2 linked regions of the Homo sapiens genome follow. The protein of the gene in region 2 purifies or fractionates together with the protein of the main gene of each other region. This does not show direct contact. Each region holds a gene or a part of one and is shown on either strand. Other genes may lie near its edges. The genes, in order: CA1 and ARMH1.

The links.
Region 1: the proteins of ARMH1 (region 2) and CA1 purify together in Homo sapiens (affinity purification with mass spectrometry; one large-scale study listed by BioGRID and IntAct). This does not show direct contact.

The regions. Positions count from the first base shown.
Region 1 is NC_000008.11:85,332,995-85,336,819, forward strand, and holds part of CA1 (carbonic anhydrase 1), read right to left. Parts: intron 627-3,825; coding exon 531-626; intron 1-530. UniProt on the Homo sapiens protein: Catalyzes the reversible hydration of carbon dioxide. Can hydrate cyanamide to urea.
Region 2 is NC_000001.11:44,681,039-44,684,863, reverse strand, and holds part of ARMH1 (armadillo-like helical domain containing protein 1), read right to left. Parts: intron 472-3,825; exon of another isoform or gene 213-471; coding exon of another isoform or gene 208-212; intron 1-207.

The sequences.
Region 1 (3,825 bases), on a different chromosome or scaffold from region 2:
AACTTTTTCATAGAACTTTTCAGGGATTCTTCTATAGAGGATTTGAGCAACATCTCCCATTTAAAAAATCAATTGAATATTCTTTGTAAGAAAAAATTCTCTTACTATTTCTTTCCTAATGAGATATTAAATTGATAAATTTCTGAATCTATGATTTCAGGTTTCCTTATTAATATTTAATAATATTTCTTTCCTGATGAGACATTAAATTAATAAATTTCAGAATCTATGATGTAGGAAATTTAGAGGAAAGGGAATTTGGAAGAGCTGGAAAATAGAAATTCCTTTTTCCCTGTGAACACATTTCTATCTCACCTCCACCTGAAACTCATTTCTCTCTTTAAGAGGGAAAAGCAGAGATAAAACCAAGCAATAAAATACTAGGGAACTATTTGTTCACCTGTAGTCATCGGTTAAATGGAAACTTTAAAATAAGAAATTCTAAAATATATGTTGCCTTATTTCCTTCTATTTTGAGGTCTAATTGGTAAGACAGTGGAAGCAGAGCTGTGTAATTATCTGTAACTCACCTTCATCAAAACACCAATAACTGCCAAACCATCAGCCTTTGAGGCAGCTTCAGCAAGGCTGGAGTACTTTGCAGAATTCCAGTGAGCTACGTGAAGCTAAAAATGATACTATGGTTAATTAATTATTTATACCAGTGTGATGAAAAAAGATAAGTTATAAGTTAACTTGTTACCATATGATGATGTATCTTGGCTTAGATACATAAAACTTATGTGAACCTTTATCCAGTGGATTAGAAGAGTTACATTCTCACTCGTAGGAAGGGTTATCTGTGTGCCAGGTAGAGATTACAAAACCTGGAACCAGTAAGCAAAATGTCCTTTCCTACGATATTGTTATTTAATATTACTCCTTTAAATGTATCTCTCTTTGTTTTGAAAAGATCAGGAAATATGACTAACTAGTTTTTGGGAAAATAATTGAAGTAATTTTCTCTCACATGAGGTACTTTATAGTAAATTTATGAGAAAGGGTTCCTGGAGTTCCTGGGAGTCTTGGCCAAGAACAGATTCTTTCAGGCACGTTCGTGCCCTTTCCAAACATCTCTCAAATAAATATCTCCAGCTTAACGTCTCTGCAAACTCTAGATTTGTACATCCAAGTATGTATATATGTATTCTTGATATATTCTTGATATCTCTACATGGATGTCTAATAGATGTTTCAGACTTAATCTGGCCAAAATAGAACTCTAGATTTCCTTCTTGCCAAACCTGCTTAATTTTACCTTCTTAGGATAAGGTTTTTAAATGCTCAATCAATAAGTACAACAACTATCATTCATTTCTTGCTTTCCCCACCTATCAACATTCACATCTTACAGGTTATACTTCGTCACATGTTCACAACTTTGAGCCTTTGCATTAGCTTCTAATTTTCTCTGGAATTTCCTTCCCCATGATCTTCAAATGGCAGACTTTTGTCTTGAATTAGGGTTGAACTCAAATGCCACTCCTTAAATAATTCTTTCCTGATCATCCAATATAAAGTAACCACCACAAATCAAAACAGTTCTATCCATATCACTTATTTAATCTCTCTTCTTCCTATTCTCCTCCCTCCCTTCCTCCCTCCCTCCCTTCCTTCCTCCCTCCCTTCCTTCCTTCCTCCCTCCCTTCTTTCCTGCCTTCCTTCCTCTGAAATTTTTATTTTCCCTATCAAATGCAAGTTCTGATAGCAAGTACTTTTTAAAAACAGTATCTCACGCCTGTAATTCCAGCACTTTGGGAGGCCGAGGCGGGCGGATCACGAGGTCAGGAGTTCGAGATCAGCCTGACCAACGTGGTAAAACTCCATCTCTACTAAAAATACAAAATTAGCCGGGTGTGGTGGCACATGCCTGTAATCCCAGCTACTCAGGAGGCCGGGGCAGGAGAATCACTTGAACCTGAGAGGAGGAGGTTGCAGTAAGCCGAGATCGTGCCTCTGGACTCCAGCCTGGGCAACAGAGCAAGACTCTTTCTCAAAAATAAATAAATAAATAACGACAAAAAATAAAGACAGTATCTGGCATATTGTAGGTGTCCAGTGAATATTTGTTGAATGAAAAAAGAATGATTAAGACAGTATATTAAGAGGGATCACTTATTGCAATTTCCTCTGACCATGCCAGTGTAGATTCTGTCCCTACTTGTAATTAATTATTCTTACATCTGTATTCCTATGCTTCTTTGTGAATAGTCATACTGCCATTTGCTACTATATTTATTTAATCACAATAATTTATGCCTATACTTCCCTGCTTGAAAAATGTTTGCTTGTGTCTCTACGGAAATGTTAAGTAACATTATTCAGCACATGCAACATGAAAGGTGCTGGTCTAAGTGTGCTCTGTATGGGTTAACTCTTTTCATGCTGTCAACAATTATTAAGATAGATACTAATGCTATATTATCTAGATTCTCTATATAGGAATACTGGAGCGTAGAGTGATTTGTTTGAATTTGTACAGCTAGTAAGTGGTCGAGCTTTGATTCAAACCCTGGCAGTCAGCTGGGTACTTGCATTCTTAAGCAACAGGCTGCATTGCCTCTCAAACCTATTGTCTTATAGGTATCTCAAGAAGGTTTATTGAACTGAATTTAATCATATGCTAAACTTTGTGGCTAAGTGTCTCTCAATATCTAGCATGGATTATATTGATTTTTCTCAATTTAGATGAGAGAGTCACTAATTTAGTTTTCTTGGATACTACCAACTATCCTTCCAAAAAGATAATACTAATTTAGGCTCTTAGTCCATTTAATTTTAATCTACCTTCAATTTTATGGAGGGGAAAACCCAATTAACAGATTTCTGCAGCATTGAAAGGTGTTAGTCATGCTTTACAACACAAGGTAAAGCAAGTTTTATTTGTATACAATCTGCTGATGTTCTATCAGAATAGAAGATACATATACTTTGTAACGTAGCAGTCTGCCCTGGAAAAATCTATCGTACATAATTACTTTCACTAGTGCACAAGATATATGTACAGATATATTCACTGAAGCATTTTTTAATAAAAGCAAAAGAAACCAATATAACAAAAATCATATGTTGTGATTGTTCATCAATAGAAGGCAGTTAAATAAATTCTGATGCATTCACCCAAATGAAATACTATGCTGACAGTAAAAAAGGTGGAATTCAATCTTCTGATTTTTAAAAATTGTCATGATAAGTGGGTAAATAGAAAAAAAGCAGGTTGCAAAATTATATATATTATAGAATTCATTTGATGAAAGTAAAATTAAAAAGTCAACCTGCATATATGGGTACACATGTATTATATAATTCATACACCTAAAATAAAGAGCAAAATTTCTCACATTTTAATCTCCCAGACCCTCTGCTGAGAGTTTGGTGTACATGTCTCCATTTTTCTTTGGATATACAGATAATAATGTCCTGAAATAAGTCACAAACTTCCATGTGAGAGCAGGTTAAGAGCCAGGGAAGGTTAGACCCTCATCTAGGTGTATGCTGTTCTGTGACCATTGCTGTGGTTAAATTCGAGCTCTTAGTAGAGTCTCATTGAATTGTCCTGGCTTGGCCACAACGATACTGCTGGTGTATCCAAACTTGAACGTTTAAATAAAGAGGAAATGATGGTGTGTTCCATTTGGGGTTACAGCTTTAAAGGAGGAGCAGTGTCATCCTTTGAAGCTAGCTTTGATATCAAGGTAACAGCTTTTGAGGCATTCTCAGGGAAAGGTGAATCTTGGGCTCAGGAGTTTAGCTGCCTCTTTCCACATGAAAATTTTCTCTCTCTTGCCAAACATTATGTGTCTGTGCTTGATTTTAATGGAAACT
Region 2 (3,825 bases):
CATCAGTTTTCAACTCTATGTCTCATTCCTGCCCTTCAAGCCCTGCCTGAGGTCCCTGTGCAAGGAGGCCTACAGAGTCCAACTTCCTTCCTCTTCATGCAGCAAGAAAGTTTAGAGTCATTTCTTTCTTGGCGGTTGAGGGTCTGGAGTGCAGGCAAGTGCTCTGCACACAGAGGTCAGTGAATCCCCCTAGGTTGGGCTCCATACCTCATTTCTGACCTTCAGTGGTAATTTGTGCTTTCAAGCATTAAGCCTCTTAGAGGTCAAACTGGCTGAATTGACTGGTTTCTTGTTGGTAAGCTCCCCTTGTTGGCAGTTGCTTGCAATTTCCTCTGCTTCAAGCCGGTTAGCCTCCCTGCACCTGCCTTCTGCCTTCCAAATATTTGTTGAATTCTTTCATCTCCTGTTGCCTCCTTCCATGAACTTTTGTGACTGAATGCTTTTTTATATTTCTTCAGCGGGGTTATGTCACTAAGGTTTTTCAGAAGTAGGGGGAGATAAAAGACATTAAGTATATTTAATTAAGAGCCTCCAGTCATGTATTATTTATCTCAACCTTTCTTTAATAGTAAGCTTGATGAGGGTAAAAAAAGACCCATTAACTACCATTTTTAAAAATAATTAATAAGATGAAAACAGTGGAAAAAAGACCAAAATGTGTCAATTTCAAGAGTCAGTTGCTGGGATAAATTGTATCTAAGCTTGTTGACCGCTAAGGAAAAAGTGATGTTAGCTGTGTTTCCTGGTGAAGGCAGAAGGAATGAAGGCAGGGAGAAGAAACTGACATTTTTTGAGTGTTGATTAAGAGCTATCCACACACCATACGCACACACACTCACACACTCTCTCTCTCTCTCTGTGGTTGTTTTTGTTTATAGAGATGGGGTCTCTCTGTGTTGCCTAGGCTGATCTCAAACTCCTGGCCTCAAGCTATCTTCCCACCTTGGCCTCCCAAAGTGCTGGAATTACAGGTGTGAGCCACCGCACCCTGCCTAAATTCTTTGTTTTAATCCTCTTAAGATCCTCAGGAGGTCATCATTATCCACAACTTTCAGATGAAGAAACTAAGGTTTAGAAGGGTTTGCTCATTTATTGAAGGTCTCAAATAGGGATGGGAATGGGATTTGAACTTAGATCTGCATATAACTCCAAAGTCCAGGTTTTTCCCCACTAAGCCAAGGGCATGGATCCTGTTCTCCTCTGTGCTCCAAGGTGTCACCAATAATCTCCTGTTGTCAGATTTAGTGGTTTAGCTCACCGTCCCAGCGTGCTTGGTCTCTCTGATGGATTGTGAATGACTCTTTTCCTAACCCCAGAATCCCCTGGTTCTACTCCAGACTCTCTGAATCCTCAGTTGCCATTGCAGGATAGTGCCTTTGCAGGTCGTTTTCCCGTTCTTAGTTCTCTTCTCATGCTTTGTAATCCCTGGGTGACCTCATTCACCCCATCACTTCAAATTACATTTATAGGCGCACGACTCTCAAATCCGTCTCCTCAGTCTGGGCCTCCCACCTGAGCTCCAGATCTCTTTATGTACTTAAGTGACCGGCAGACTCTTCACTGGTATGTGTCACAGGCTCCTCAAGTCAACAGGTCCCAAACTGAACTCATCAACTCACACCTGCCCCTTGCCCTGTGTTGGTCCTATTTCAGTGCTTGGGTCACCACCCTCCTAGTCAGCCAAAAGTTGTCTTTGACTTATTCCTCTCCCTTGCCCTCATCTGAACTGTTGCCAGCTCCTGCCAATTACATGTCCTAAATTTCCCTGAGATCAGTCTGTCTGTCTTCACCTCCACTGCCGCTATTTCAGTTTCACACCCTTGTTCCGCATATGGATTACTGCAACAGCCTCCACTGGTCTTCGGGCTTGCCCCAGCCTAAACTCCACAGTGATGTGAGATTTTTTATTTTTATTTTTATTTTTGAGACAGGGCCTTGCTCTGTCACCCAGGCTGGAGTGCAGTGGCACAATCATAACTTACCGCAGCCTCAATCGCCTGGGCTCGAGTGATCCTCCCACCTCAGCCTCCTGAGTAGCTGGGACTACAGGTGCATGCCACCATGCCCACCTAATTTTTATTTTTATATTTGTTTATTTTTTGTAGAGGTGGGGTCTTGCTTCGTTGCCCAGGCTGGTGTCAAACTCCTGGGCTCAAGCAATCCTCCTGCCTCGGCCTCCCAAAGTACTGGGATTACAGGTGTGAGCCACCAGGCCAGGCTTTGATGTGAGATTTTTAAAAGTACAAATCTGACAGATTTCACTGCTTCAAACTCTTCAGTGGTTCCTTACTACCTGAGGATAAAGCTTCAAACATTTCAGGCCAAAGAATTTCCATCTAAATTCGGCCCCAGGTGAAACCTGACACCCCACCCCACCCCTTGCCTCAACCCATGCTGCTGCTGCTTCTAAATCAGGAAGGGGGCTGCCCACTATCCTACACCTCAAACACCATTCTCTAAATCCCTACTACTGTTCCTGAACCCTTCCTCCTCCTCTGAGGTCAGGCCATCTGTCTTTCCCTCTCTACCTTGCCGCAGTGCCGATCAATGACTTTGACACGTAAGCCTTCCTGTTTACTCAAGAGCCACTAGGCAATTTCAACATCAGTGTGCTCCATCTTTGTAATTTGGGTGGCTAGCAGGGTCTCTGGTAAAACACAGGCACTCAATAAGTGTTATTTAAACTGACATCCAACACACTGTGCTCAGAATGTGCACTTTAATTTCCTTAGCTCTGCACATTAGTTAATTAAACAGATTCCCAGGTGCCAACTCTGAGCCGAGCACTGGGCTTGGGATTGGTTAACGTGACAAACATAGACCTTGCCCTCGGGTGCTTACAGACTGGCAGGGCAGAGAGACAAGCAAAAAGGTGATTTTAATGAACAGTGGAGAGCGCTCTGATGGGATATATCCCAGGTTCTGTTGGCGCACAGAGAAGAGACATGGAATGCAGACTCCAGCGACCTCCCGCTTTCACCTCCAACCAACACAGCTTTCATACCCAAAACCCACACCCCAAATCTGTGACTGGCTAGCACCATCCCACCTATGAAGTCTACAATTCCAAGCTCCTTACCTTCCCACCTCTTCCATCTATTCTCAGAAGGCCTACTTTTGGGTTTAACAAAGAAAGTTATAGGCCATTAGGTAAGAATGTCGTCATACTCCTCTTCTTTCTTCATCTCTATCCACATCCATCCTTCTCCTCTCCTTCTCTAGCCATCTACCAGAGCTCTGCCTCCATCCACCCCGCCTTCTCAGGGCCCTCATTCTACTCATTACTCCTGCCTCCCTTGTATCCTTAACCCCTCTATTTAGGCATTTTTCTTGTTAGCCTTGATTTTTACCTATCTTTATTATTATTTATTTATCAGTGTATTTATTCGAGATAGGGGCTCACTCTTGTCACTCAGGCTGGAGTGCACAGCACCGTCATAGCTCAATGCAGTCTTGAACTCCCGGGCTCAAGCGATCCTCCTGCCTCAGCCTCCTGAGTAGCTAGGACTATGGGTGTGCACCACCATGCCTGGCTAACTTAAAAAAATTTTTTAGAAATGGAGCCTCACGGCCGGGCGCAGTGGCTCACGCTTGTAATCCCAGCACTTTGGGAGGCTGAGGCAGACAGATCACGAGGTCAGGAGATCGAGACCATCCTGGCTAACACGGTGAAACCCCCTCTCTACTAAAAAATACAAAAAGTTAGCCGGGCATGGTGGTGGACGCCTGCAGTCCCAGCTACTCGGGAGGCTGAGGCAGGAGAATGGCGTGAACCCGGGAGGTGGAGCTTGCAGTGAGCCGAGATCACGCCACTACACTCCAGCC